Regions from separate parts of the Homo sapiens genome. Here all the other regions are linked to region 3. The links come from fine-mapping of genetic effects on gene expression. A gene starts in region 3. Each other region holds a variant in brackets. All regions are shown on one strand. Distances are from middle to middle. Region 1 overlaps ZBED4 (zinc finger BED-type containing 4). Region 2 has its middle 19 kb from the start of CRELD2. Region 3 holds the start of PIM3 (Pim-3 proto-oncogene, serine/threonine kinase).

The links.
Region 1: its variant is fine-mapped to the expression of PIM3 in whole blood (INTERVAL, PIP above 0.99).
Region 2: its variant is fine-mapped to the expression of PIM3 in whole blood (TOPMed, PIP above 0.99).

The regions. Positions count from the first base shown.
Region 1 is chr22:49,860,384-49,870,736 of GRCh38, reverse strand. The region is part of intron 1 of ZBED4 (zinc finger BED-type containing 4); the gene reads right to left. It also overlaps a transcript of ALG12 not described here. Among named protein-coding and RNA genes, the nearest start is that of ZBED4, 12 kb to the right of the region's middle. The variant C/T (reference allele first, on the strand shown) is at 5,312.
Region 2 is chr22:49,932,368-49,942,720 of GRCh38, reverse strand. No RefSeq gene overlaps it. Among named protein-coding and RNA genes, the nearest start is that of CRELD2, 19 kb to the right of the region's middle. RefSeq lists enhancers at 1-16, 5,979-6,818 and silencers at 6,230-6,769, 6,546-6,840, 7,329-7,718, 7,829-8,048. The variant A/C (reference allele first, on the strand shown) is at 5,823.
Region 3 is chr22:49,955,005-49,965,357 of GRCh38, reverse strand. PIM3 (Pim-3 proto-oncogene, serine/threonine kinase) reads right to left here and starts at 4,586. Exons shown (of 6, transcript NM_001001852.4): 1 at 4,326-4,586; 2 at 4,124-4,233; 3 at 3,990-4,040; 4 at 3,547-3,916; 5 at 2,493-2,669; 6 at 1,286-2,418. The coding sequence starts at 4,410. The coding sequence ends at 2,231. It overlaps MIR6821 (microRNA 6821), which reads right to left and starts at 2,492; the gene lies at 2,419-2,492. RefSeq lists an enhancer at 1-150 and silencers at 2,724-3,243, 3,374-3,423, 4,064-4,113, 4,254-4,403, 4,454-5,093 and 2 more.

The DNA.
Region 1 (10,353 bases), 95 kb after region 3:
CAAACTATGCATCTGACAAAGGTCTGAAATCCAGAATCTATAAGAAGCTTAACAAGAAATAAAATAACCCCATTAAAAAGCAAGCAAAGGACATGAACAGATACTTCTCGAAAGGAGACATAAAAGTGGCCAACAGACGTGAAAAAATGCTCGACATCAACAGTCATCAGAGAAGTGCAAATCAAAACCACAACGAGATACCATCTCACACCCGTCACAATGGCTTTTATTAAAAAAAGAAAAAAATAACAGATGCTGGAGAGGCTACAGAGAAAAGGGAAACTCAAGCACTGCTGGCAGGGATGTCAATGAGTTCAGCCACTGCGGAGAGCAGTGTGGAGTCTTCTCAAAGAACTAAAAACAGAGCTACCATTGGACCCAGTGATGCCACTACCAGGTATGTACCCAAAGAAATAAATCATTCTACAAAAAAACCCCATGTACACATGTATGTTCATCACAGCACTATTTACAATAGCAAAGACATGGAATCAACCTACGTGCCTAGCAATGGTGGACTGGATAAGGAAAATGTGGTATATCCACACCATGGAATATTATACAGCCATAAAAAAGAACAAAATCATGTCCCTTGCAGCAACATGCATGCATCTGGAGACCATCATCCTAAGTGAACAAACACAGGAACAGAAAACCGGATACCACATGTTCTCACCTATCAGTGGGAGCTAAGCATGTGGTACACAGGGACATAAAGATGAGAACCACAGGCACTGGGACTGCGAGAGTGAGGAGTGAGGGAGGGAGGAAGGGAGGAGGGGACAAGACTGAAAAACAACCTATTGAGTACCATGCTCACGATCTGGGCGACGATCATTCTTATCCCAAACTCAGCATCACGCAATATACCATGTCGTGAACCTGCACATGTGCCTGATGAATCTAAAATCAAAGTTGAAATTCTTTTTAAAAACAAAACTTTTTAAAAAGTGAGTGGAGGACACAGATGAAATGGGAATGGCTGTGAACTGGTAATTCTGAAGCTGGGGATGCGTGCACAGGGTTTATTATGCTACCCTTTCCACTTTTACGTATATCAGATTATTTCCATGAAAGCTATTTTAAGAAAAAAACCAATGAGATACACTGCTGACTTTTTAAGAGAAACAATGTAAATCAGGAGACAGAGGAATGACATCTTCAAAGCTGTGAAAAATGAGAGCCAAACCAGAATTCAGTAAGCAGTACAAATATTCCCTGAGGAATAAACAGGAACTAAAAAACACCATCAGACAAACCAAACACAGAACGTGTCTCTAAGTGACCCACACTAAAGTCCACGCAAGAGTGTTCTCCAGTCAGAGATGAAATAATCTGGTCTGGAGGACGAGCGCTGCCAAAAAGGCCCGAGGTGGATAACCACCACGCGGGTACGAGGTAGGCAGCCGTGCACTCACTGTTACGGGTGCCTCTGCCTTTAGGCCCTTCCAGCGGAAGCACTAGAACCCATAAACACACACACCAACATGCATGTGTGTACGTGAATCAAAGCCACAACTTCACACTGACACCGCCAACTCTGCCCTGACCCTGAGATCACAAGACCGAGCATCCCCCTTTCCACAACCGTGATTTTTCTTTTTTTTTTTTTTTTGAGACAGTTTTGCTCTTGTTGCCCAGGCTGAAGTGCAATGGCATGATCTCGACTCACCCAACCTCCGCCTCCTGGGTTCAAGTGATTCTCCTGCCTCAGTCTCACAAGCAGCTCGGATTACAGGCATACACCATCACACCCAGCTAATTTTTTTTTTTTTTTTTGTATTTTTAGTAGAGACAGAGTTTCTCCATGTTGGTCAGGCTGGTCTCAAACTCCCAATCTCAGGTGATCCGCCTGCCTTGGCCTCCCAAAGTGCTGGGATTACAGGTGTGAGCCATTGCGCCCGGCCTGCATCCGTGACGTTTCAATCCACCTCTGGGAGGCTGGGCTCCCACCCTCCTGGCAGATTTCCTCATTTGCTCAACCCTACAACACATGCACGAAGTAGCTGCAGAATTACTAACCCAGGCCACCAAGAAAACAAGCCTTCTAGCTGGAGATCACAATTCATTTATAATTTTTATCTTTTTACTTGGAGGTTTATAATCACATCGTGTCCAAGAGTTTCTTGGGTCAGTTTTCATTTTTCTTTTTTGTTGGAAGAGACAGTCTCGCTCTGTTGCCCAGGCTAGAGTGCAGTGGCACAATCTTGGCTCACTGCAACCTCCGCCTCATGAGCTCAAGTAATCCTCCCACCTCAGCCTCCTCAGTAGCTGGGATGACAGGTGTGTGCCACCACCCAGTTAATTTTTTGCATTTTTTGTGGAGATGGGGTTTCACCATGTTGCCCAGGCTGGTGTCGAACTCCTGATCCTGGGTGATCCACCAGCCTCAGCCAGCTTCCTTCCTCAAGTGTAGTTATTTTATTCATTTGAAATATAGTAAGCTCATTTGTTTGCTTGTAACACTGCCTATATTTTATTTTTTAGTTTCCCCAAATCTCTCAATAAAAGGAAAACTAGAACAGTAAAACCACAATCCTCTGATGTTATCAACAACAACAAAAAAGAAGACTGACAAGGTCTTTCCGTTAACCAACAAATGTAAGTGGAAGGGACAAACCATGAATATGGGTAAGTGGGTCCCTGATTTAATGACGGTTCAACCTACGAACCTGCAACTTTACGATGGTGTGAAAGCCACTGGCATTCAGTACAAACTGTACTTTGAATTCTGAATGTTGATCTTTTCCTAGGCTAACAACATACGGTGTGACACTCTTACATGAGATATTCAACACTTTATGACAAAACAGGCTTTGTGTCAGGTGATTCTGCCCAACTGTGGGCTCATGTAAGTGTCTGAGCACATTTGAGGGGGGCTGGACTAAGCTATGATGCTCGGCACATCAGGTGAATTAAATGCATTTTCCACTGAAGATATTTTTAATTGATGATGGATGGGTGTATCAGGATGGAAGCCCCCTTGCAGTCAGTATTACAAGGCCTAGATGGTATTAGATCTGGCAGCTGGAAAAGAAAGATGTCATCAAGCGTGTGATACACCGAGCATCCCCAAGTAGCCAACAGGTATCACTGGACGGCCCACAGAACCAAGCTGCTGAGGTGGGTGACTTTCTGCACATCTGCAAAGCAGAGGAGGGTCAGGGTCCAAGGTCCGATCTGGGGCAAAACAAAACAGCTGACACTTCTTTCTGGGGCAAAAACTCCCATGAAGAGAAGCTGCTGGGCCTACCAGGCCACCCAGAACTAGACAGAAAGTCAGCGAGAACAGAGAAGACTTGAGCAATACCGTCAGCCAACTGACCCAGTGGATGCACCGCAGTGCCTCCCCAACCGCCGCTCCCACCGCCGCCTGGCACACGCTTCTTCAGGGGCCCAGGGAACCTCCCACAGTATAGACCACATGCTGGCCCATAACATACGCGTTGGGCATTTCAAAAGGACTGAAACTATACAAGTCCTCTAAACACAATGGAGTTAAATTATAAAGCAAAAGAAAGAAATCTGGGAAATAAGCAATTATTTGAAAACAAAATACAATTCTAAATAACTCACGGGTGAAAAACAAACCGTGAGGTAAACTGGAAAGTGTTTTCAACTGAACGACAATAAAAATACAACCCACCAAATGGATGAGATGCAGCTGAAGTGGTGGTTAGCAAGAAACTGAAAGCTCTACATACCTGTGTTAGAAAAGATGACCTCCAGTCAATAAAGTACTCACCTAAAAGAAAACACTAGAAAAAACAGCAAACCAAACCAATGCAAGCCAAGGAAGGCAGGTGACCTCCTGAAGGCGCAAGAGGTAAGAACGTGCATTTGCCGAGAGCCACCGTTCAAGAGCCGCCAGCATCTTGATTTAGCCCAGTGAGACCCATCTCAGATTTCAGATTCCTAATTTCCGTTTGTGTGAAGCCACTCGGTTTGTGGTAATTTGTTAAAGCAGCACTAGAAAACTAATATAATAGGCAACAGAAAAGAATTCTGTCACATCTCACAGAAGGGTATGAGAAAAACTAAAGAGCAGAAAAACATCACTGCAGATAACGAAATATGCTCACAGAAAAATGTGACCTCAGATTAAATGAAAACGGTAACTTCCTCTTGCAAAGAAACTAAAGAAATTAAGAAAATGATATAAAGAAACAACATAAATCAGGATAGAAAAATTCTGATGTGAGATTATAGGTCCCACAAAAACACTAAAAATAAAAGTAAAATATGACTTCAAGAATGAAGACCTAAAAAAGAAGAAACAGGAGAACAAACTCCACAGATGACAGCTTAAGATAAATGAAAGGGAAACACAATTTTTTTTAATGAAAAAGAAATGAGGGGATTAAAAAAGACTCAAGAGAAACGGACCAATTTAAAAGACACGTAAAGAAGATCCAACATATGTACAATCAGAACAGCCACCCCAGAAACAGGAGGGGACAGGGCAAGAGAACAGAATACTAAACACTTAAAAACCTTTCCTGAATTAGAAATTGTCAAGCCACATAGTGAAAGGGACTGAGAAAATCCATCCTCAACTAATAACACTAATTTATTTTCTAACAAAATTACTAGACTTAAATCCTTTGGGCTCTCAGGCAAAGTACAAAGTCACTTGGAAAGAAAAAACTGTCATGATTTTGACAGCAATGCTTTATCCTAGAAGACCATAGAATAACATAGTTAAGACATTCAAGGAAAAAAGTGAACTAGCCAGGCACAGTGGCCCACGCGTATAATCAGCATCGGGAGGTGGAGGCGGGAGGGCTGCTTGAAGCTGGGAGTTTGAGACCAGCCTGGGCAATATAGTGAGACCCCCAGCTCTACAAAAAATTAAAGGGAAAAAAAAAAAAAAGAAAATGTGAACCAAGGATTTTATACTAAGCCAAACTGACCTTCGAGCACAATGAATGCAGAAAAACTACTATCAAGATGCAGGAAGTCAAGACATCTTGTTCCATGAGTCCTTCCTGAGAGATCTACCGGAGAGCAAACCTCAACCAAAACACAACAGAAACATGAGGACCCAATGTGAGCATTTATTTTTATTTTTGTCCACTCTGTCGCCCAGACTGGAGTGCAGTGGTGTGATCTCTGCTCACTGCACCCTCTGCCTCCCGGGTTTAAGCCATTCTCCTGCCTCAGCCTCCTGAGTAGCTGGGATTACAGGTGCCTGCCACCACACCTGTATTTTAATAGAGACGGGTTATTATTTTTTTTTTTTTGTATTTTAATAGAGACGGGGTTTCACCATGTTGGCCAGGCGGGTCTCGAACTCCTGAACTCAGGAGTT[C/T]CGCCCGCCTTAGCCCCCGAAGTGCTGGGATTAGAGGCGTGAGCCACTGCGCCCGGCCCCCGTGTAAGCATTTAACACACACAGTCACGTGCTGCACAGCAACACCTCACTCGGCAAAGAGCAGCGCACCCCACAGTGGCTACATAAGATAACGACACCATCTGTTTACTGTGCCTTTTCTGTTTGGACACACAAATACTTGCCACGGTGTTACAAATGCCTACAGGCTTCAGTGTAGTAACTGCTGTGCAGAGTTGCAGCCTCGGAGTGACAGGTTATACCATCTGGGTTTGTGTAGGTGCACTCTATGAGGTTCACACAACGACAACATCGCTGAGTAACGCATTTCTCAGAACACACCCCTGCCCTTAGTGAGACCCGGGGCTGCCGTCACTTGCAGAGCTAGGACTGAATAAGGGTTTGCAGGGGAGAAACACAGCACAATAGCTGGACTCCGTGGTTTCTGACTTCACGGGGGGGGGGGGGGGCTTGCTGGGATAGAACCCCATGGTCAATCAAGGAGCATCTGAACTTCATCGATGGTTTGACTCGCAATCTTTCAGCTCTACGACGGTTTAATCAGGGCTTTTTTTTTTTTTTTTTTTGGAGACAGGGTCTCACTCTGGCGCTCAGGCTGGAGTGCAGTACACAATCTCAGCTCACTGTAGCCTCAAACTCCTGGGCCCAAGCAATCCTCCCGCCTCAGCCTCCTGAGTAGCTGGAACTACACCTGAGTGTCACCACACCTGGCTAATATTTTAAAACATTTTTTGTAGAGAGGGGGTCTCACTAGGTTGCTGAGGCTGGTCTCAAACTCCCAGGCTCAAGTGATCCTCCCACCTCAACCTCCCAAAGTGCTGGGATTATAGGCGTAAGCCACCATGCCCAGGCTCCAATCAGGTATTAAGTGCATTTTCGACTTTGATGGGTTTATCGGACGTGGCCGTGTCCTGAGTTGCGAAGCATCTGTAGTACGTAATGGCTACACACTCTGTAGTTGAGACCCTGCATAACTACACAGAATGGGAAGACTTAGGCAAAAAATATCTTCACTGTTTTCAGTAATGATATAGGTGGCAGTTGTACTGCCATTGTTATTTTGAGATTGTGATGTTTGTAGCAAGAGATAAAACAGATGAGACATTATGCGATATTCCAATTCTCTCATCTCCACTGTCCTTGAGACCAGCACTCTCAGTGGAAAAAGAGGACGGAGACGTAAGATTAAAGCACACCCATGTGAACGCCCTGCCGTCAGAAAGCAGATCACACACTCCAGCAGAGGCCTAGAACCAGCGGCCAACCCAACAGCAGTGAGCACCTGTCACATGCAGACTGTGGTTTTGAAACTTCCAAGCCCTTAAAAGAAACCAGAGCTGAAGAAATGGCTTATTTCAGGTCTGGAGCCGGAAAAATACAAGATGAGCACAGAACATATCAGACAGCCAGAAACCTCTGAGAGAGTTCAGGAATGATGTCAAAAGGATCCAGGAGCCAGCTTGTAGGGGCTCTCACTGTCCAAAGAGGACAGAATTTAACATCCCAAATATGTTTAAATTCATTAGTTCACCAATACCAACATCAAATCCCTAACTGGTCGCCTCTGGAGGCTGATAGGAAAATGATTCATCATTGTGAAAACTGATGAATTTAAAAAAAGAATCAGGCATTTATCTTCAGTTTTCTCCATGAACTATAACACCAGAGAGTGGATAAGAAGAGGTTTATCTTTAATAGTTCATCTACTACATAAAGAAGCAATAACTCAGCCAGAACATCACACTTTTTTTTTTTTTTTTTGAGACGGAGTCTCGCTCTGTCCCCAGGCTGGAGTGCGGTGGCGCGATCTCAGCTCACCGCAACCTCCGCCTCCCCGGTTCAAGCAATTCTCCTGCCTCAGCCTCCTGAGCAGCTGGGATTACAGGCACTCGCCACCACGCCCAGCTAATTTTTGTATTTTTAGTAGAGACGTGGTTTCACCATGTTGGCCAGGATGGTATCAATCTCTTGACCTCGTGATCCGCCTGCCTCGGCCTCCCAAAGTGCTGGGATTACAGGCGTGAGCCACCACACCCGGCCTACAAAAAAATTTTTAAAACTTAGCTGGGTGTGGTGATGCGTGCCTGTGGTCCCAGTTATTAGGGAGGCTGAGGTGGGAAAATCACTTGAGCCCGGGAGCACCACTGCACTCCATCCTGGGCCACAAAGCAAGACCCTGCCTCAAAACCAACCAACCAACCAACCAACCAAACACAATCTACAAGAAACCAAAGGATAGAGGAACACACTGGGCCTCTCCAGAAGAATGCAGCCAGCAAAATCTAGACCGTGAGATGCACGAGTCCAACCACCAAGTTACCTCAGAAAATACTTCCACGGGAGGTGGGGTGGATAATGTAACCTGTAGATTCAGACTGAAAGGCTGGCCGGGTGCGGTGGCTCACACCTGTAATCCCAGCATTTTGGGAGGCTGAGGCAGGTGGATCACCTAAGGTCAGGAGTTCGAGACCAGCCTGACTAACAGGGTGAAACCCTGTCTCTACTAAAACTACAAAAATTAGCCAGGCGTGGTGGTGGGCACCTGTAATCCCAGTTACTCAGGAAACTGAGGCAGGAGAATTGCTTGAACCCAAGAGGCAGAGGTTGCAGTGAGCCGAGATCACGACACTGCACTCCAGCCTGGGCGACAGAGCAAGACTTAAGTCTAAAAAAAAAAAAAAAAAAAAAAAAAAGGAAAAACTTAACTAATATTTAGAGGTACTCAGTTCAGTCAAAACAACAAAGAATAAGGAAGTAGCTGCTGTAACAGTAAGATTGAGGCAGCCTCTGCTGGGAGGGGCTGGGGCGGCACGCACAGGGGCTCTGGAAGCTGGCAAGCACCTCTTGACCCAAGCACCAGTTACAACTGTGTCCATCTTATCATATGACTCATTACGCTAGACACTGATTTTATTCAGTTTCTGTATCTGTGCCACACTTTAAAATAAAAAAGGTTTAAAAACACACTTATAAAGCTACACTAGGCTGGGCGCAGTGGCTTACGCCCGTAGTCCCAGCTACTTGCAGGCCACGGTGAGAGACTTGAGCACAGGAGATCAATTCCAGTCTCAGCAAAAAAGTAAGGCCTCCGCCGCACAAAAAATAAGAAAGACAGAGAAACCACCTTCCAAGCGACTTTGCGGCAGAAGCGTTGGGGCCGCTCCGTATAGGTTCCACGCACAGGGCCAACCGCCCTCGGGGACTTACTAACAAAATGAGCCACTTGCATTCAATGATCTCAACTGCTCCGTGCTACATCCAATTCAGTAAAGCACAGTTTTTTCATTTTTCACATTCAGATTGAAGCAAATTAAATGAAAACCCGTTCAAGATACCCCTTCTCACCCTACCATCCTGGCAAAAATCCAAATGCTTAGTAATGCCCTCTGTTGGTCAGGCCCTCTCCCACAGTGCTGACAGGGTGCAGGCCTGTGCGGGGGAACTTGGAAGCACTCACCAAAATTACATGTATCCTCCCACCCAGCAACCACACGCTACGAACAGACCTGAAGACAGTCCTCACCAGAAACACAAAAAATGCAACACACGGCAACGTCAGTCACAGCGGCATCCCACGGCAAAGGATCAGAGCCCGTCAATAGGACCCACACATTCATACATGTGCTGAGCAGAAAAACCAGACACGCAGGGGCCAGCCACGGCAGCTCACGCCTGTAATCCCAGCACTTTGGGAGGCCAAGGCAGGTAAATCGTTTGAGCCCAAGAGTTCAAGACCAGCCTGGGTAACATAGTGAGACTCCCATCTCTACAAAAAATTTGAAAAAAATCAGCTGGCATGGTGGCATGCGCCTGTAGTCCCAGCTACTCAGGAGGGTACAGTGAGAAAATCACTTGAGCCCGTGAGGTCGAGGCTGCGGTAAGCCAAGATCAGGCCACTGCACTCCAGCCTGGGCAACAGAGCCAGACGCTATCTCAAAACAAACAGGTCAGGTGTGGTGGCTCACATCTGTAATCCCACCACTTTGAGAGACTGAGGCAGGCAGATCATTTGCAGCCAAGAGTTTGAGGCCAGCCTGGCCAACACAGTGAAACCCCATCTCTACTAAAAATATAAAAATTAGCTGGGCGTGGTGGCGGGTGCCTGTAGTCCCAGCTACTCAGGAGGCTGAGGCACAAGAATCACTTGAATCCAGAGCGAGACTCCATCTCATAACAAACAAACAAGAAAAACCAGACACACACAGTGTCAACAGCCCATGCTAACTTTTGTGAAAGACAGGAGGGGAAATGAGTTGTGGGTGTGTTTTGCTTACTTTTACAGGACGTAGCAGAAGTAAAAAGCGTTGCCTAGGCCGGGCATGGTGGCTCATGCCCATTATCCCAGCACTTTGGGAGGCCGAGGTGGGTGGAATGCCTGAGCTCAGATCGAGACCAGCCTGGGCAACATAGTGAAACCCCATCTCTACTAAAGTACAAAAAATTAGCTGGGCGTGGTGGTGGGCGCCTGTAGTCCCAGCTACTCGGGAGGCTGAGGCAGGAGAATTGCTTGAACCCGGAAGGCCGAGGATGCAGTGAGCCAAGATCGAGCCACTGCACTCCAGCCTGGGCAACAGAGCAAGACTCTGTCTCAAAAAAAAAAAAAAAAAGGTTGCTTAGAAGAGTGGTGGGGATAAGAAAGGTAGCTTTTATGTAGTTCTGACCTTTATAACAGGTAATTATTTTGTACATAAAATTTGTAAAAAATCCTAAATCTAAAAATGATCTGAAACAAATGGGCAACATAACCAGAGAAAATAATATTTGTCTTATTTCTTTCTTGGGAAAAATAAATAAAATAAAAAATAAAACAAGAGTATTTGTCAAGGAACTTTAAAATACAGCACTTTATTCATCCAAAGTGGAAGATAACTAAGGACAAAAAGAACTCAACAAAAACCTGCAAAGTTAACTAAGCAGTTTTCTTACAGGAGTGGTATTGTAATTCTACAACCTACTGTATGCACATTTTAGCACAAAACAAGGCCAATGATATTATTAAGATT
Region 2 (10,353 bases), 23 kb after region 3:
TTCACTCACTTGTTCACTCATTCACTCACTCGTTCACTCAATTACTCATTCACTCACTCACTCGTTCACTCAATCACTCATTCAATCACTTGTTCACTCAATCACTCATTCACTCACTCATTCACTCACTCACTCATTCACTCAGTCATTCACTCACTCAATCATTCACTCACTCACTCATTCACTCAATCACTCGTTCACTCAATCACTCGTTCACTCAATCACTCACTCACTCAATCACTCACTCACTCTGTCTCTCACACATTCATTCATTCATCATTTGATAAGTAGTTTTTCCTGAGAGCCCACTTGTGCCATGGCCCACAGTGGCGCCTGGATAAACAGTGGGCTCATTCATTCATTCACCATTAAATGAACCTGGGGAGCCCATGGATGTCAGCACTGCAGAAGGCTGGATGGGTGGACCCCTGGGTGAATGGACAGGTGGATGTGTGGACACAAGGGTTCCCTGACCTGAGACTCCAGCTGAGGTGTCCCCAAAGCAGCTGCTGCCCTGAGAGCAGCCCCGCAGCTGGGCGCCATGCCCTCTTCTTTCCTGGGACACAGGCACTCTGCCTTCCTCTCTGGTCCTGGCCACCGCGAGTGCTGACTCTTCAGAGCTGCTTCCACCCTGGCCAGCATGCAGGCTCCTTGGGGTCAGGAAGCATCTGGAGAGGTGTGGGGCCTGCTGGGATCATGGCCCACACTGCACTGAGCACCTGCCATAGGCCTGATGCAGTGTGGCTAATGGGTCCCCTTGGTGAGAGGCTGGGGTCACTGCCTTGTGTTAGGGGCCAGGCTGGCAGAGAACGGGCTGCAGGCCCTCAGCACGCCCATGGAGGAAGGCCATGGGCTGGACCCAGGGACCAGAATGTCGGGCCTGGAACTGGACGTGGGACCTAGCCATGGATGCAAGGCCTGCACGTGGATGTGGGACCCACACACCTTCGTGGTTCTGGGGCACATGGCAGCAGCAGATGCCAGGGAAGGGTCACCCTCTGCTCACAGGGCCGGGCCCTCCCCTTCCTCCAACTCCCAGTCCACCTGCCCCCTCACACCTGACCTTTGTGTCTGCCACAGAAAGGGTGTGATTTCCTGGGAGCCGCTCTGCGCAAAGGCAGGTCAGGGTGTGAACTGAGGCCCTGGCCCCCCCAGCCGTGTCCGCTCTTGGAATTGTCTACATCTCACCATTCACCCCGGCCTCCGAAAGTTCCATCAGCTCCACATTAAAACAGACCTGGAATCCAGCCAGGCCACTGCCTGTCCTCCCAACGGGCTGGGACTTTCACAGCCTGCTGCTCCCAGTCCCCACCTGTGCTCAGCAGCAGAGACCCTCTGAGCATCAGCCACAGCCTCTTGGTGCAGCCCCACCTGATGGGAGTGAACCCCAAGCCCTCACCGGGCCCAGAGGCCCTGGATTGGCCCCTGCCACGGCTCCTCCCAGCACCCTCTCCTTCTTCTGCTTGCACTGTCTGGGCCTTTGAACTGAGGCACGCCCGACCAGGGGTCTTGCTCCAGCTGTCCCCTCACACCTGTCCTCCTCCCCACCTGGCATCGTAGATCCACGTGGGCCTCCCTCACCTACACCAGGGCAGGGGTCTTCCGGGTCAGAAGATGGACTGCTGAAGCAGCCTTTTTTCTGGGGTGACACCCAAGGTTCTTGGTCTCACAGCCACGGAGATCAAGGATGAGGACACAAGAAGGGTGAGGTTAAAGCAGACATTTAATCAGCAAAAGAAAGAGAATAGGCTGGGCATGGTGGCTCAAGCCTATAATCCCAGCACTTTGGGAGGCTGAGGCGGGCAGATCACCTAAGGTTGGGAGTTCGAGACCAGCCTGACCAACACGAAGAAACCCCGTCTCTACTAAAAATACAAAATTAACTGGGTGTGGTGGCGCATGCCTGTAATCCCAGCTGCTCGTGAAGCTGAGGCAGGAGAATCACTTGAACCCGGGAGGTGGAGGTTGCGGTGAGCCAAGATTGTGCCATTGCACTCCAGCCTGGGCAACAAGAGCAAAACTCTGTTTCAAAAAAAAAAAAAGAAAGAAAGAAAGAAAGGAAAGAAAGAGAATAGGCTGGGTGTGGTGGCTCAAGCCATGTACATTTGACATACTTCCTAAGAAAGTGCTTTTTAAATGCAGGTTGTCCAGGCCAGGCGCGATGGCTCATGCCTGTAATCCCAGCACTTTCAGAGGCTGAGGCAGGCTGATCACCTGAGGTTGGGAGTTTGAGACCAGCCTGACCAATATGGTGAAACTCCATCTCTACTAAAAATACAAAAATTAGCCAGGCGTGGTGGTGCATGCCTGTAATCACAGCTACTCAGTAGGCTGAGGCAGGAGAATCGCTTGAACCTGGGAGATGGAGATTGCAGTGAGCTGAGATCACACCACTGCCCTCCAGCCTGGGTGACAGAGTGAGATTCCGCCTCAAAAAAAAAAAAAAAAAAGAAAAAGAAAGACAGAGAACAGCTCTCTGCTACAGGGAGGGGTCCCAGAAAAATGGGTTGCCCATCCGAGATGAAATGCAGAGATTTTTATAGATGAGCTAGTGGGGAGGCAGTGTCTGATCTACATAGGGCACGAAAAACTGGTTGGGACCGGGCGTGCCATCTACATAGTGTAGCACCCCAATCTTTTTTTTTTTTGAGACAGTTTCACTCTTGTTGCCGAGGCTGGAGTGCAATGACACGATCTCGGCTCACCGCAACCTCTGCCTCCCGGGTTCAAGCGATTCTCCTGCCTCAGCTTCCTGAGTAGCTGGGATGACAGGCACACGCCCCCACACCCAGCTAATTTTTGTATTTTTGGTAGAGACAGGGTTTCATCATGTTGGCCAGGCTGGTCTTGAACTTCTGACCTCAGGTAATCCACCCTTCTCGGCCTCACAAAGTGCTGGAATTACAGGCGTGAGCCACCGTGACCGGCTGGCACCCCAGTCTTTTATTATGCACGTGGGAAGCTACTCCGTGCCGCTCATTTTTTTCTTACTGTGCGTGTGTGCTAACTAAGAGGGACATGGAGCCCCAGGGTGGACGTTCCTGGCCCCAGGGAGCCCTTTCTGTCTGTGCAGCTGCCTCCATGTCCTGTGAAGCTTCCAGCCTGATCTGTTTGCCGCCTAATCTTCCAGGCTGCTCTTTGTTAAAAAAGAAGTGATTTCTTGGGCTGCTTTCTGCTTTTTTTGTTTTGTGTGGAGACAGAGTCTCTCTCTGTTGCCCAGGCTGAGAGTGCAGTGCTGCGATCTCGGCTCACGGCAACCTCCGCCTCCCAGGTTTAAGCGATTCTCCTGCCTCAGCCTCCCAAGTAGCTGGGATTACAGGCACCCGCCACTATGCCTGGCTAATTTTTGTATTTTTAGTAGAGACGTTTCACCATGTTGGCCAGGCTGGTCTGGAACTCCTGACCTCAGGTGATCCGCCCGCCTTGGCCTCCCAAAGTGCTGTGATTACAGCTGTGAGCCACCTCGCCCGGGCCTGCTTTTTGTTAGAAGGGAGGTTCTGCTGAGGACTCTTTTGCCCTCATTATCTACCTAAATAATTTCTTTCTATCTCCTGTATCACCACCACAGTGGGAGGAAGCTGCCGACTTGGGATGTGGAGGTGGGGGCAGAGGGTCCTCCAGCTGGCCCTAAACAGAGTCCTGCCCCAGGCCTGCCTGCTCCTGGCACCTCCTGGCCCTGCCCAGGACTGAGGTCACAGGCACTGTGCCAGCCCCCTCTGACCGGTGAGAGCCCAAACAGGGCACACAGGAACCCACACAGAATCACAGAAGCCCCCCACAGGGGCTGGGAGCAGTCCCCTGGGCACTGTCGGCCAGTGCAGCCCCGCCGGGGGGTGCAGCTGCTGGTGTCCTGGGGTGGTCTCCGTGCTCATGACGGTGCCTGCATCCGTGCTGGGGGGTGCTGGTGTGTGCACGTGTGTGCTGTGTGTGCACAGGTGAGTGTCCGCTGAGTGTGCACGTGTGTGCTGTGTGTGCACAGGTCAGAGTGTCCGTGGTGTGTGCACGTGTGTGCTGTGTGTGCACAGGTGAGTGTCCGCTGAGTGTACACACGTCTGGTGTTCATGCACGAGTGAGCCCATGCTGTCCCGGGTCAGTGACAGGCGAGCATCGCGTGGGCCATGGACTGTAAGTGGGTTTGGGTAGTAAGGACACAGTGACCCCTAACCCCAAAACCATCCCTGGCTCTTGGGTGGGGAGGGGAGAGTCTGGCACAGCTTCCCTTTGGCTGTTCCCGCCTCCCCGGTTCCTGGCCCGTGGCCCCTGCCCCATCCGCCTTCTCCATGTCTGGCACTGCCCTTCCCTATGTGGGGCACGGGTCCTCACTCCTTGGGTCTCAGCTCCCAGGCAGCCCTCCCAGGCCCTGCGAGGACCCTGTGGGTGTTTGTCCCTGTGTGACTGAGGCACCACATAGAGCAGGATGTGCTAAGGCTGTACGCCTGGGCCCCACGGTCAGACGGATAGACAGAAACGTGGATGGACCGACGGGCAGCTGGTGGCCAGCGCAGGCTGCCGAGAATTGGCGGAAGTGGGGCGGGTGGCCGGCGGGCGGCCTGGCAGATCCTGGAAATCCTCGCTTCCTGTTTTCCCAACAAAGGGCCTCTGTCCCCCCAGGAAGGCCACTGGCTGGCGGCAGTGGACGGACATTCCTTTTCCGTAAACAGGATTGTTTTCCTTTTCTCCTCTGGACACAATAACAGCAGCCCCCATGCCCCCCATCCTGTCTCCTGTCACCACTAGCCATGGGGCGTGGACAGTGTGGACGGGTAGGGGGTCCACAGAGCAGGCTTTCCTGGACCAGGTGCCCATTCTGTCACCCTGGGAGTGGGAGTCACAGTGGGGGCCATAGCCTAGTTGACGGCAATGAGGCCTCCAGGGCAAGGAGTGGGAATTCAGTGACGTCTGCCCCACAGGGCAGGTGGGAGGCTGGACCAGCCTTGGGCTAAGGAGACCCTGTGAGCCTCATGGCCCGAGGCAGCAGTGCTTGGGGCAGAGGCCAGGCTTAGGTCTCTGCAGGGGCTGGGCCTCCCTCCAGGTGGACCTCCCCCCGCCCCAGGCTGGCTTTGGGTGAATGCATCTGACTTCCAGAAGCCCCAGAGCAAGACCCTAGAGTAGCTAGAAGCCCCAAGGGGACCCTGGGCGTGGCGGGAGGGGGCAAGGGAAAAGCCTCCAGAGGGTTCAGGGCCCTCCCCTGCCACAGGAGACCCAGTGAGGGCTGCAGGGACAGCCTGGATCTGTGCAGTGCAGATGGCGTGGAGGGGCAGAAGTGGCACGGTTCCCGCGTGCACAGCTCTGAGTGAGCGCAAGTGTGGCTGCTGTGCACACCCAGGCAGCGGGTGCCTGAATGGGCCTGTGTGAGGGGCTGGGACTATTTATAGCCGCTCCTAGCCCAGAGGAGCTATTAATAGCCAGGGTTGAGGGGGACGGACAATGTCTCCTGCTGGCCGCTGCCTGCGGGTGGGGTGGGGGTGGGTGCCATTCTGTGCCCGGAGACACCCGGGGCTGGTACCCCAGCCCCCACCCAGGCTTCGGCACAAGGGCCACTGTTATCTGGTCAGCAGCTGAGCCAGGGGTCTGCATTCACCTGGGACAGCAGGCTGGGGGTGCACCAGGCTACAGCCCCCACCCTGCTCTCCCCGGAGGCCGTTCTGCAGCCACACTGACCCTGAGGAGGATGGGATGGTGGGCACGTGAGCTGGCAGCAGCAGGGCACCCCGGATGGAAAGGGATGCTGAGACCAGGACCCCCATATCTGGTTCTCAGATTCCAGCATGGGGAAGGGGTAAGGAAGTGCTGTGGGGACCGCAGAGCCAGAAGTGGATTTG[A/C]GAGAGGCCGGCCCTGCAGGCCCCCCAACCTGCCTCTGGCAGTATAACCAGGTGTCCCTGAAGTAAACAGGTGAACTGAGGCCAAGTCAGATGGGCCTTGGAGCCACTGGAGGGGTGTGGATGGAGGGCTGTGGGTGGAGGAGAAGGGCCCTGCCAGAATTCAGGCTGGTGGGGGCAACAGGCAGCCTCATAGCCCGCTGTCCTGGCTGAGGCTCATTCCCTGTGATCATTTTTGAGAAAAAAAAAAAAAAAAAAAGGGGGGAGGGCGCCTAGCTTGTAAAAAGACCAGATCCCGACCCCACGAAGGGTGAAGTGTGACCTGGGTGGGGCGGGGGGCACCCCTCCAAGCCTTGGCTGCACCCGGCTCCCTGTGCCACACGCGTCCCCAGCATCAAGAGGCGCACCCCCCACCTCTCCCTAAGCCCAGCCAGGCTGCAGAGAAAACAGGAAAGCTCGGAGGCCCAGCCAGGCGCCCTGTGGGCGGGCCTGGGGGAGCTGGGGACGCAGGTTCTGGCTTCCACCCCGGGGGGGCGGGGGGTGTGCGGCGGCGGCGGTGGCGCTCGTGCATCTCATTCTGCGCCTGCTCCCGCGGGGGCTCCTTTCCTTCGGGGAGCCCCCGCCCCCGGGGCCGTGACTAAGCGGAGTCACCTGCCGCCAAGGGCTTTCCAAGAAGGTCAAGGCCAACCGCGCTCCGGCCCACGCCCCAGAGCTCGGGCCGGGCCCTCACAGCCATCGTCCTGCTCATCGTCATTGCTCCCGCAGGGGGTTCCCAGCGACGAGGAGCGCGGGGCCGGGGCGGCGGGGGAGGAGCGCGGGCGGGTCCCTATGGGGCTGGGCACGGGCTGCAGGTCCCCTCCCATGCTCAGCCCAGGCCCCACACCCTCCACCCCTGCTCCTCCCGGACCTCCACCCTCCCCTCCGTCCCTGCTCCTCCCGGACCCCCACCCTCCCCTCCGTCCCTGCTCCTCCCGGACCCCCACCCTCCCCTCCGCCCCCACCCCTGCTCACCCCAGGCCCCACACCCCGCACCCCTCCTTCTCCCAGACCCCCAGGCTCCCCTCCGCCCCTACCCCTGCTCCTCCTGGACCCCCCACACCCTCCCCTCCGCCCCAACCCCTGCTCATCCTGAACCCCCCACCCTCCCCTTTGCCCCACCCCTGCTCCTCCCACATCCCCACCCTCCCCTCCGCCTCCACTCCTGCTCCTCCCGGACCCCCACCCTCCCCTCCGTCCCCGCCCCTGCTCCTCCCGGACCCCCATCCTCCCCTCCGCCCCCACCCTGCTCCTCCCCGCGCCCCCACTCCCCGCCCCCACCCTCCGTCCCCAACACCTGCTCCTTCCCAGACCCTCATCCCCCTGCCCCAGTCTCGCTCTTCAGCGCACCCCCGGCACCTCCATTGCGTCCCCTCCCCCCACCTCCTCGTAGCGCCCCCATCTGCTCCCCGCCCCCGCCCGCCGGGGAAAGCCCAGCTGACGCTTCCGGCACCGCCCCCTTCCCGGCAGGGCCGCTCCCCGCCCTTCCCGCCCGCGGGAGCAACACCGCCCCCCGCGCCCCACCCCGCGCCCCGCCGCCCGCCCGGGTCCCCCAAGCCCGCTCTGCGCAGGGCGGGGTCCTTCCTCTGCAAAGGGCGGACCGAAGACCCGGGCGCCGGGCAGAGGCTGGAGGGGGGCCCGGGTGGGGTGAATCCCCAGTGGGTGCCCGCTCCCCACCCCCACCGCGACCACCAGCCCCCGCTCCGAGCAGGGACTCCGAGGCTTGCGGGTGACCCTCGAGTGGTGGCCGCCCTGTGGCCCAGAGAGCCCCGTCGCAGGCAGGTGGGTGAGCGCAGAAAGACGCTGGCCCTGGACTGCCGTTTGAGGGGTGAGGGGCCAGATACCCCTCCCTGGCTCTGGGGGGATCCTCCCAAAGGCCAGACCGGGGTAGGGGGGAGAGCGGACCCTGCTCAACGGCTGGGAACGGTCTCTCCAGAAGGATCCCCCGGGAGTGGGTGGAGGGGGTCTCTGGAGAGGTGGGTGCCCTGCAGCCTCCTCAGGCCAGGCCACTCCCGGCCCCTCACTGGTGCAGAGCAGCCGGCTTGGGGTTTGGGAAGACCGCAGCCCCAGGGAGGCGGGGAGGGGCGCTGGGCCTGGAGGGGGAGTGTGTGGCCTGAGAGCCGGTGGCCCCCACCAGCCACATTACAGTAAGCCTTTCTGGGCCCCAGCACCGCCCCCCACTCCCCTGCAGGACCTGGGCCCTTCTGCCCCCCGACCCCCAGGGCCCACCTGGCACAGGCTCAGTCCACACCCGCGTGCTGGTCACGGGCATATGAGGAGGAGGGCAGGGCCACTGGGCCAGGGCCCTCCACCCTGAGTCACCCCACTGACGACCACCCTTCCCAGGTGGCAGGCAGAGTCCCCACCCCAGGCCTGCGGGGTCTGGGAGTCTGAAAAGGGACAGAGCCGGACCGGGGGGCTGAGGGAGCAGCAGGGGCAGGCTGAGGAGAGCACCCCACTGAAGGCCACACCCTTTGAGTCATCCTGTGGTGGCCAAAGGCCCAGCCCCCTCCTCACAGCTCAGCACGCTGAAGAAGTCTCAGGGTGCCTCACCTCACCCAGCCCCCAGGTCAGCTGAGGACATGGCTGAGGCGCCAAGACCGCCTGCCACTCTGGAGCCAGCCACAGACAGGCAGCGCCAGGGAGGTGTACAGGCAAAGGCACTCTGTCCAGCGGGCACCACTGGCGGTGGACGCGACGGGAAGGGGCCTGCACTCTTGGGGTGGGTGAGCCTGGGGTGAGAGTCCAGGGGGCACAACCTTGAGAACAGTGTCCTCGGGGGGCTGCTGGTGCCCGCCCCTGAAGCTCTGGAAAAACAACAGAAGGCTGCATGGAGAGGCCAGGAGAACACGCACAGACTCAGTGACCAGAGGGGCCACCAATAGGTGACCCCATCCCCGGGGGTCTGCTGTGCCCCGGCCTCGGTGCTGGCTGGGAAGAAACAGGATGTCTCCAAACCGTGCCTCCTCCGTGGGAGAGGCCGGCCCCCTGCCCCGGCTCCCCAGGACCTGCCCGAGACCCTCCTGGGATTACCCAGGACCTGCCCGAGACCCTCCTGGGATTAAGTTGCAGTGTATCCTGGTGGGGATGTGCTGGCCCAGTGACAAAGGGGCCACAGCCTGAAGGAGCCCGGGACCCGAAGCCGTGCCCAGCCAGATAAGCTGCATGTGGTGGACGGCGGAGAGCTGACGGGTTGTGGGCCCTTTTCTGAGGACTAGGACCCCAGGAGGCGGTGTCCTCTGCTGCTCTGTTTCACGGCCCAGAGGCTCCTGGAGTGTGGGACACACGTGAGGAGGGGTGAATGTCAGAACAGCCACCGCAGACAGGGGCTGAAAGTCATGTGGCACCACAGATCCCAGCTGTCCTCTGGAACTGAGAGCAGGGGACGGTCACAGCACTGGACTGGCTGACAGGGACGGGGGTGATGGCCAGGCAGCAGCATTTGACCATCAGTGGCTGTGAAGGCAGCTCTCTAATGAGTTGCAGGGCTGGAGCGGGCCCAGGGTCAGAGCTGCGTGGGGTTGTGGAGGTGGCTGATAGAACAGCATGTTCCTGGGAGAGGGACAGGCAGCCCACAAGAGACTGCTCAGCTTGTTGGAGCAAAATATATTAGGGTTGTGTGATGCGGAGGTCAAGGGTACTCGCTCCAATAAAAAGTCAGGGCCGGTCGTGGTGGCTCAAGCCTGTAATCCCAGCACTCTGCGAGGCCAAGGCAGGTGGATCACTTTGAGGTCGGGAGTTCAAGAGCAGCCTGCTCAACATAGTGAAACCCCATCTCTACTAAAAATACAACAGTTAGCTGGGCGTGGTGGCAGGTGCCTGTAATCTCAGCTACTCGGGAGGCTGAGGCAGGAGAATTGCTTAAACCTGGGAGACAGAGGTTGCAGTGACCTGAGATCACACCACCGCACTCTAGCCTGGGCAACACAGAGAGACTCTTTCTTGAAAATAGATAAATAAGGCCGGGCGTGGTGGCTCACGCCTGTAATCCCAGCACTTTAGGAAGCCGAGGTGGGCGGATCACGAGGTCAGGAGTTCAAGACCAGCCTGACCAATGTGGTGAAACCCCCATCTCTACTAAAAATACAAAAATTAGCCGGGCGTGGTGGTGCATGCCTGTAATCCCAGCTACTCGGGAGGCTGAGGCAGGAGAATCACTTGAATCCGGGAGGCAGAGGCTGCAGTGAGCCGAGATCGCGCCACTGCACTGTCAGCCTGGGCTACAGAGTGAGATTCTGTCTCAAAAATACATAAATAGGGCCGGGTGCTGTGTCTCACACCTGTAATCCCAGCACTTTGGGAGGCCGAGGCGGGTGGATCACGAGGTCAGGAGATCGAGACCATCCTGGCTAACACGGCGAGACCCCCGTCTCTACTAAAAATGCAAAAAATTAGCCGGGCGTGGTGGCAGGCGCCTGTAGTCCCAGCTACTCGGGAGGCTGAGGCAGGAGAGTAGTGTGAACCCGGGAGGTGGAGCTTGCAGTGAGCCGAGATCGCG
Region 3 (10,353 bases):
GCACGCTGGTTGGGCCAGGTCTATGGGAACCGGTGGCTTGTCCTTCCCGGCACCTCCTCATCTCCCCTGCTGGCCTGAGGCTGTAGGGTGAGATGAGGGCCCCGAGAGACCTGCCTAACTGAGCAGCTGCCCTCCAGGTGCTCCTGGATCTCCACAGCAGAGGCCACAAACACCCACTGATGTCCTGAACAGTCACAACCTGAGGCGGGAGCCCCCCACCCGAGCCCTCTCTGCCTGCTCTCCAGGGGAAGGGTGACTTTCGTCTCCTCCTGTTTCTCTTTCCCAAACTTCCCGCCTCTGCCACAGCCTCTGGCCTCGGGCCTGGGACAGTCTTCTGTCCAGTATGGTGCTGCCTGCCCCGGGCTGTTTATCAGGGACTCTTATTCGGAGGGGCAGATGGGAGGCAGGGGGCAGACAGGGCTCCAGGAGCCAGAGAGCCGAGTAGGTGCGCTTGGCAGACTGGGTGATGCCCCAGGTGCAGGTCCACTGCCAACATGGGGCACCCCACAGCCCAGCACAGGGTGGGCAGTTGAGCAGAAGGCCCCTGGGGTGGGGGTGGGGGAGCAGTCTCACTGGGACCCTCCACCCAGGCCTCCTCTACCCACCAGGAACATTGTGGCCAGGCCCATTGACACACCCGAACCTGGTTCATACCCCACTCTCTCACCACACACCCGCCAGGCCAGGGTCTAACTATAACTGACTGAACACCCCGATACCCTCCACCAAACCCCACCCTCATGTCCTCTGCACGTCCTTGGCACTGCCCGGAACACACTCCCACCCCATGTGCCTGGCAAACTCCTCCCTGTCCTTCAAAACCCCCAGCCACCCTCTGAGGCAGCATGGACTCCCTCCCCCACCCCCCCGCACGTCTCTGTTTCCACCAAGCCAGGATGCAAGTATGGCCATTTCCACTGGCAAGGCCTCCCTGGGTGGGGGCTGCAGAGATCCTCCTGGGACCACCGAGGAATGACCTCCTGACTAGTGTGGGTTGCTGCATCCTCAGGGCCTGGCTCCCTGCCTCCACCTCCCAGAGGCACCCCAGGAGGCAGCTGCTCTTCTCCCTGGGTGCAGCACGGGGTAGTGCGGTGGGCCACAAGCCACATGAAGTAGCCTGTGGCACTGGGGAGGCTGGCACCCAGCTGGGCCTCCCCCGTTTCCCCCGTGGGCAAAACTACCAGCCCCACGGGAAACTTGTCAGGTCACCCAGCAGCCAAAGCCCTTCCTCAGAGCCCCTCTCTTCCCCCAGGATGCCCAGCCCCATAAATACAGGATTATCCACTATGTACAAAAACATTTTAATTGAAATACCTGTATAAAAAAATATGATCTCCAGACATCTCACTTTTGAACTGAAAGAACCCCCATCTGCGATGCCTGCACACACCGCATTCACACAAACACAGGTACTGAATAAATTAAACGCTCAGGCTCTGGCCCCACCCCAGCTTTCAGAGCCCACAAGCAGACTGTACAAAGTCAATAATTTAAAACCCAAACCCTGGGCACAGTGCCTGGAAGTGTCAGGGTCACCCACTCCCCTTAAGTTAGCCACTATACATGTTCATCTTCTGACAGGCGGGGCCGGGACAGACGCCAGGCACAGGAATCAGGGCCTGGGGTCCCTGGACCACAGCCACCCCCTCCCCTGCCTCCCCACTGTCCCCTGGGGCTTGGGAGAGGCAGACTGCTCAGAGGAAATAACCTCAACAAATAAATTAAACAATAAATAGCCCCGGTGGGCCGAGGGCACCTCCAGGGGGTCACACCATAAATAACAGAGTTGGCGGCGGGTACGGCTCGCGTGGGCGGGCGGGCGCGGAGGCCAGGACTTGCATTGTGTGTGCAGGACGTGCCCAGACGCACACCGCAGGACTGAGGGCGGGAGGTGGGCTTGGGACCCTGCGCCGGCGGAAAGAGCTCCGGGTGGGCAGGCAGATGGGAAGGCCGCCTCCGGACACAGCAGCACAGAGGGGCGTCTGGGGTTCAAGTATCCACCCAGGGCAGGCGGGACCTCGACCGGAGCGTCTTTGGACAGACAGAGCTTGAGAAAACCAAGTCCCGCGGGACCAGCGTTCAAAAGGCACTCAAAGCGAAGGTCACCAGGGGTCAGAGGTCACTGCTTCCGCAGGAGGAGACGGCCCACGCAGGAGAAAGTCAGGGTCTGGGGGCGTCCCAGGTCTGGCCAAGGCAGGTGGTCCCCTAGCTCCCAGTCAGGTGCAGCTCCTCACAAGCTCTCGCTGCTGGACGTGGTGCTGGCCACGTCATCAGGGTCGAGGGTGCACAGCCGCAGGTCACAGCTCTCCGGGACGCCCCCGTCAGCCCCCAGCATCCAGGGATGGGCCGCAATCTGATCCAGCGACGGCCGCTCTGAGGGCCGCAGGGACAGGCACCACCGGATCAGCTGCTGGCACTCTGTGCGGAGCGGAGAGGTCAGGGAGGGCCCAAGCAGGGCGAGGCCCCCACCCCCGCCTCGAGCCACCACGCACCTGGAGAGACCCTCCTCCGGAAGAGCAGGCGGCCTCGGAGGATCTCCTCGTCCTGCTCGAAGGGGATGTCCCCACACACCATATCGTAGAGAAGCACGCCCAGCGACCACACGGTGGCCGAGCGCCCGTGGTAGCGGTGGTAGCGGATCCACTCCGGGGGGCTGTACACTCGGGTGCCTAAGGGGACACAGGGCTTAGCACGCCCACCACAGAGGCAGAGCCGCTCAACAGACGGCGAGGTCCCTGCTGGTTAACTCCCTGGCCTCAGTAACAGGAAGCAGAGCCAGGCCTCAAAATCCTGCTCGTCATCACCCTGGAAAAACCCCGGCAGGCGATGGGGGGGCTGGGGGAGGGGCCGGCCGTCCCCCTCCGCCGGCCGCGGGGGAGGAGCAGGTCACATGAGTAAGAGCTCGGCTTTCACAACAAACAGATGCGCTGTGAGGCTACCTGGGTGGGGGGGGGACAGCGCGGGTCCCTTACCGCCCGGCGCGCCTGCCTGCGGGAACGGGGGGAGGGGAGAGAGGGAGGGAGGAGGGAGGGGCGGGCGGGGAGCCCCGGCTTCCCCAAGCTCCGCAATGCGGGGATTTCTGCCGCCGCGCCCCCGCGCTCCGCACGCACGCAGCTCCCGCCCCCACGCAGGGGAGGCCCCGCCACTCCAACCGCGCCGCGGGGGCCTCCAGGCTCCCGGCGCAGACCCAGCCCGGCTGCGCCCTGCGTCACGCACGGAGACTCCTCCGCTACCGCCCCCAGCCGGGGGTCTCTCGGGCCGGAAGGATGTCACGCGCCTCCCACACCGGGGCAAGAGGCCCCGTACCCCCCAACGCGATGGAGGAAGCAATATTGAGCGCGCCCCTAGCCCCCACCCAGCACGATCCCGCTCTTGATCCCTCGCTCAGCCCTCCCCAGGGTAGCGCGTGGGCCTCTGCTCCCCACGAGAGCAGACCCAGGGCGCGCGGCCGCCCAACAGTCATCAGCCCCTCCATGTGCCGCCCCTGCAGGCGTTAACCCGCCGGCAAGGCCCCCGGAACGTTCCCTGCCCCGCGCCCGCGCTCACCGTCGAAGTCGGTGTAGACCGTGTCCTTGAGCAGCGCACCCGAACCGAAGTCGATGAGCTTGAGCTCTCCGGAGCGCAGGTCCACAAGCAGATTTTCGTCCTTAATGTCGCGGTGCACGACCCCGCAGCTGTGGCAGTGGCGCACGGCGGCCAGCACCTGCGCGAAGAAGCGGCGCGCCAGCGGCTCGTCCAGGGCGCCGCGCTCCGTGATAAAGTCGAAGAGGTCCTGCGCCGGCTCGGGCCGCTCCAGCACCAGCAGGAAGCCGTCGGGCCGCTCGAACCAGTCCAGCAGGCGGATGACGCCGCGCGCGCCGCCCGCCGCGCCCACCTTGCGCAGCAGCACCACCTCCAGGGGCACGGTCGCGCCGCCCTGGGGGACACGGCGGTCAGCAAAAGCCCCGCGCCCGCCCCCCGCCGCCGCCGCCGCCCGTGCCCCAACTTACCAGGCTGCCCCACTCGGTCACCCGCTCCTTCACCACGTGCTTCACAGCCACCTGCGGAGACGCGGGGGTCAGGCCGGGCCAAGCGAGGCGCAAGGCGCGCGAGAAACCCGGGCCCGCCCGGCGGTCCGACTCACCGGGAGCCCGTCGGCGATGCGGCTACCCGCGTAGACCGTGCCGAAGCCGCCGCTACCCAGCACGGCGCCCACCTGGTACGCCTTCTCGAAGCTCTCCTTGTCCGCCTTGGCTGCAGGGAGGCGCGGGCGGGGTTGGTGCGGCCCGGGGCGCCCCCGGTCCCCGCCCTGGCCCCGGCCCCGGCCCCGCCGGCCCCGCGCGTACCTGGCTGCAGGATCTTCACCGGGAGGTGGTCCACGCCGCCGGGCCCGCAGAGGTGCGCCAGGGAGCCGAACTTGGAGAGCAGCATCGCGGGCGACGGCCTCCCCGGAGCCCCGAGCCCCAGGCGCCGAAGCCGCGGCCGATCCGGGCGAGCGGCGCGCCGGGGACACCGGCCGTCCGAGCCCGAGGCGGTCCGCGCGGCGCAGTGGGCCCGGAAGGCCCGCGGGGACCGCGTAGACGCGCAGCAGGCGGAGCGCCTCACCCGCCCCGGCCGCCTCGCCCGGGGGTTTTGGGCCGCGGCGCCGCGTATCCCTCCGCGGGGGCGGGGCGAATCGGGACCCCGCCCCCTTCCGCCCGGGGCCCGCGAGGCGGCGGCGGCCGGGCGCTAGCTGGGGAGACGGCGGGGCAGCTTGGCGCCTGTCTTCGGGCGGGCGAGGGCCGGGTGCGGCGGGCGCGGGGCCGCTCCGGGACTCGTTTTCGTAGCGCAGCCGCGGAGGCGCACGGCGTGTCGCGTCGGTCCGCTCTCCGCGCTCACGCTCTCACTCCGCGCAGGCGCAGTGCCCGCGCGGGTGGCGGCCGTGGCGCCTCGGGCAGAACGAGGAGGGACTGCACGAGCCAATGGAAGCCGGAGTTTTTAAAGAAATCCGGCGCCCCAGCCAATGGCGGGGCGAGCCGTTTCCTGGCTCCGCCCCCAGCAGTGCCTAGGAAGGTCACCCGCCGGCCCCGAGCAGGGTTCCTGGGGGTGTGGGAGTGCGGGAGGCGACCTGCGCTTGTCCCGCGGCCTCGAGGTGACACACGCCGCCAGTCTGCGTCCCCGGCTGTCTGCGCATCCCGTCGCGCACGTGGCCGGGCGCGCGGGGAGGTAGCGCCGGCTCCTCTGGAAGCCCTCGCAGCGGCAGCGCCCCCAGCCTCGCAGCCCCGGCGGGGGCCGAGAGCGCACCTGGCTGGAGATGCTTCCTCCTCACCCTGGGCTCTGACCTCACGCCCGCAGCCCGAGGGCCCTCCCTGGTACCTCTGCCCTGCTGGCCGGTGCCTGGAGTGGCCCCGCCCGACTCCTGCCGTCTGACACGGTCCTGGCTGCCCTCCGGGCTCTCCAGCAGCTGCTGTCCACCTCCACCAGGGAGCCCACCTTGATTGCTGCGACAGCCGCACTCAAAGGCTGAACAGCCGGGGTACACATTGCCCTGGTCTGGACTTCACCCTGTCGTGCCCCTTCCCTGCTCTCTGTACAGAAGTCTGACTCACCTGTGTGGTTTGGTGCAAACCCACAGATTGCCAACATTGGTCCAAAGTCACCGGCCTGAGAGCAGCTCAGGGTTCCAGGACGTGAGTGGCCACCCGCCAGCCCCAGGGCTAGTGGGTTGAGAGTTGGGGGCCAGAGGGCCCAGGGGCTGGTCCTCTTGGCACTGCCAGGCGTTCTCAGTGGCCCTCAGGGGTCTAAATATTGTGGCAGACATCCCCGGGCGGTCTGGTGTGACCGTCAGCGCGCACACACACTTGCCTCGGAGCTTCCAGCCTCCCCTAAGTCTGACCTCTCATCTCTATACAGTCACCATCGCTGTCCCTGCGCTGACCACTCACACACCACTCCCCTGTTCAGCTCTTCTGAGGCTGTGGCTCTCGGGACTGGCCCAGGCCCACCTGCCATCTGGGCGCCCTCTGGGGCTCGCTTCGTCGCCCGCTGCCTGGGCCCATGCCTGTGCTCCTGGGGGCTCCTCTCTTGCCTAGCTCATCTCTTCCTGTCCCTTGGGTCCTGAGGATCAAAGCCAACGCGACATTGTTTGTCCCCAGGCCCCTCCCCCTCCAGCCGCTGCTTCCCAGAGCTCTGTCCAGTTCTCTCCCGCAGTACGAGGGCAGGGTTGGGGCTGGTGGGTTAGCCTTCCCCCACCCACCACGCACCCAGCACAGGGCTCCCCCGAGATCAGATCCCTGGTAGGATGACACCCCAAGCCTTCCCCTCCAGCAGTATCCACACAGCACCTGCGAAGGAGGAGGGGCTGCTGCCCATGTGGGTCCTCCCGGGGACCTACCTGAGGGTCCAGTGGGGCTGCCCTCTTCTGTGCTGGACACGCAGCAGAGGTGGGCAGAGATGCTGGAGAGCACGGTAGGTCTAGGGGGTGACCACTACAGTTGAGTTCATGTCAGTCTGGAGGGGCGAGGGTCCTCAGCCTGACATGTCAGGCTAGTCTTCCTTGAGTCTGACATGTCAGGCTCCAGGCCAGTCTTCCCTGAGTCATCCTGGCCGTAGAAGACCAGGCTCTGGCGGGCAGGCACCCCACCCTGGCTCTCCCTAGGCCCCGGGTCTTGCTCTGAAACCCTCAAGTGTCCCTTAACTAAGATCCAGGAGGACTTGCTCCTTCAGAAAGCACGGTGTGCCTGTCCTCCACGGCCCTCCTCCCGCTCACTCCAGGTGTGCTGGAGATTCCTCCAGGCCTCCAGATGGGATTCCTGCCACACAGGCCTCGGTGAAAGCCTCCGGAGGGCTCCTGCGTGGGGGTCCAGCAGCCTGGCCCTGGAGTGGAGGGCAGGGCAGGGCCAGAGGCAGCCCTTTCCCTAAAGTGTGACATCTTTGTAACCACGTCTGTCCAGACACTGGTGTATGTTGTCGATTTACTGTTGTACGTGCTTGTGTGTGCAGCGAGGACCCTTGCACTGACGGTGAGCTCCGTGCGGGGTCAGCATGGTCCCCAGCCCTTCCCTCTCCCCCGGGACTGTTTGACATTGAGGCCTCTTTTAGACTGTGTCTGGCCCAGGCCACCACATCTGATCTAGTTGGAGTGCTGGGGTCCCCAGTAACGCCAGATAACCCTGCTCACCTTGTCGTGCCCCTCCCCTGCCATTGGGCACAGCCCAGCCTGTTCCTCAGCTTGGCAAACAGATATGGGTCATCCCAGTTGTGGAGCATCTGCGCTCTGCATACAGGGCAAGAAAAATCTGAGAGGCCTCAGGGCCTCTCACCCTCTGCCCTGGGCCACCCCTTTCCCACAGGTCCCATCAACACCCCACCCCCCGGCCAAGTCCCCAGCAGTGCAGGACACCAGCCCTGCCTGTTTTTTCCTGGTTCGTGGATGGCCCATCCAGTGGGCCCCATGGGCAGGCCCAGCCCATGGGCCAGAGCTGGGGCCGCTCCTGCAGATAGGAGGTGAGCCAGGAGGTGGGCGTGGCGGGGTCTTGGTGCGGGAGCCGCTCCACCTGGGTACTGACTGCAGAGGGCCCAGCCCAGCCCCTTCCTGTGTCCTCCCACCCCCCACCCCACCTGAAGCTCAGGCCGGCATGGCATGGGTGCCTCCTTCCCTTGGGCTATCCTGCTGAGAGGGGCAGCCTTGCTCCAGGGCCAGGGCCTCTGCCTGTCCTTGGAGCAGGTGTTTCCCAGGGCAGGGACAGGGGAGTGGAGCAGAGCTTGTCAGAGGGTCTGCACACCCCAGTCCCCAGCCCAGCCCCTGAGCCATCCCATCCCGACTGCTTGACCTGGAAACAGCCGCCCCTGCTCCGCAGTGGACACGGCGAGTCCCCCCAGGTACCCTGGCCTGCTGGAAGGAGGGTCACGCTCTTGCCATGGTGACCCAAGCCAGGCTGGCCTGCCTGGATTCGGGAGGATGAGGAGGTGGAATGGAAGGTGGCTGGGGCCACTTACAGTCTCCCACACACACATGCATGCTAACACTGCTCACACGCACCAATTCACAAACACTCACACATAGAATCACACTTACAGACACCTCCTCAAAGCTGGGGCATTGCAGAGGGGAGTGTTAACAGGGTTCATGCTCCACGGGCACCCCCATTCCTGCTCCCCAGGCTGTGTCCCCACTGTCCTGCCTCCCGCCGGCCCATCCCGCCCCTCTTCCCTCCTTCCCTGGGGATCCTGTCCACCCCCAGTCTCCAAGCCAATGACCAAGGCCTCCTTAATCAGCCTGTTTCCAGTTGCCCCGTGCCTATCCCACAGGGTCGCCCGGCCTTGTCCTGCCTGTATGTGATGCCCTTCCAACCCAGGCCATGCCTGAGGAGGGGGCGTCCCCTCACCTGCCCCCAAGCCCTTACCGAGGCCTATCCCATTCCCAAACCTCCCTCCTGCCGATCCACCTGCCCGCTCCCACCCTCATCCCAGGCCCCAGTGTGAGCCCCCTTGGCCACCATGGTCTTTTTCCCACTGTGAGCCCCTCACAGTCCTGCCTTGGACCCTTTGTGGCTCCCCTGGGCCACCAGGGTACAGGCCCTCCTCCCCAGCCCATGGGCCTGGCCCCCACCAGCACCTGCTGCCACCCAGAATCAATGTCCCAGTACGGCCGCCCCAGGCCCTGGGCTGGAGCTCTGCGTCATCTCCCCGCAGACCGGACTCCCCCAGCTGTTCCCAGCTTGGGAGGGGCACCTGCTGCACCTCGTCTTCCAGCCCACACAGGCTGCAGCGGCCAAGACTGGGTGCTCCCAGGGCAGTGGCGGGGGCAGGCGATGCCTGTTGTGGGGAGAGGCCCTTTCCCCTCTGGCCTCCACTCTCGGTCGTCGCAGCCTCTCACCCGCTGCAGATAGGAGCCAGCAGAGCTGTGCCAGGATTTTGCAACGTTTCACCAAAGGCATCCCAGGGTTGGGCCTGGGGTGGAGTGGGGCGCCTAGTCAGTGGGAGCTGGGGGTGTGGGCGACCTGCATGAACTCAGGCCCAGCCGCTTTGGCTGCCTCTTCCAGCCTCTGTCCCTGCCTGGAGGACACCAGTTTTACCCCTCAGCTGAGGCCTGGCCTGTGTTAGAGAGGCAGCTGTTCCCACCAGGTTACCCCCACCTGCTACCAGCACAGACCATTTATATTCCATAAGCCACCCGGGGCCTGGGCCCCAGTGAGCATGGCCGCCTGGCATCCGTCACTTGGACTCTGCAGAAAGAGTCCTGCACAAACATAGAAGATGCTGTGGGAGTGTCCCGTCCTGAACCCTGTCCTCAGTGGAGCAGACGCTGAGACCCAGCTGGAGGGGGGCTGCCTCTGTTGGTCGCCCGGGGGCTGCAGTGATGGTGGGAACTGTGGCTTCAGCGCAGCAGCCTCACTGGATCTGCCAACCTGGAGAGCTGTGGCCTTGCCACCACCCAGACCACGACTCAGCCTGAGCCGGAGCTGCGTGGCCTGTGTGTCCCAGGCCTGGGCCGGGGGCCAGGGCAGGCGTGCAGGGCCCCCTCACCTGGGACCTCTGACCTGTTGACCAGGGACAGGCCACCCTGGCCTTGGGCCTGGACCACAGCCCTGCCCACTTCATAGCTCTTGGCCTTTGGCCCTGCAGTGCCTTCCCTGGTGGCCCTTTGGGGCCGTCCTGGCACCTCGGCCTGGGTCCCTGCTCTTCCGCTGACCCAGCCCAGAGTCACAGACACATCCCCAGACTCTATCAGGCTCAGTCTCTGGAGAGGCACTGCGATTTCTGTGGAGGCTGTGCGGAGAATCTGACGACATTGTACCAAGCAGCACGTCCCACAGCACCCAGTGGGCGCCCGGTAGAAGAGCCTGTGGTTTTGGGCACAGACCCCGGGAGGAGGGCTCCTGGGATGAGGCGGCTGGGCAGTGCTCAGCGTGCCACATGGCAGTTCTGCCTTCTCCCTGCTGAAATCCTGCAGGCCAAGAGCCGCAGCTGGTCATGGGGGCCCCACCTCATTCTTCCTGTCCTGGCCTGGTCCACGCGGGGCTGGGGAGGCAGAGTTGCCCTCAACAGCTCACATCTGACCCCACTGCGAGGGCTTAGCTTCTGGGCCCAGGCTGGAGACCTTGGAGGACTCAGGGAGTTGGGTGGCCTCTGCCTGGTGCCCAGACAGGATAGGCCCCAGCCATTTGGCTCTGGTCCCCAGCATTCTGATGAGGAGGAGACTCAGGAGAGGTGGTGGTGGGGGTTCCCCAGGAGCCAGAAGCCAGATCTGGCCCTCCTCCAGGGTGTCTGTGTGGCTGCTGCAGGCTCACACACGCGCCGAGCCCAGCTCCCCCGTGGGTCTCACCCAGGGGCTCCCCGGAGGAGGTCAGGAGGGCGTTGGGGGATCACAGAATGTGCAGAGGTGAGAGTGGG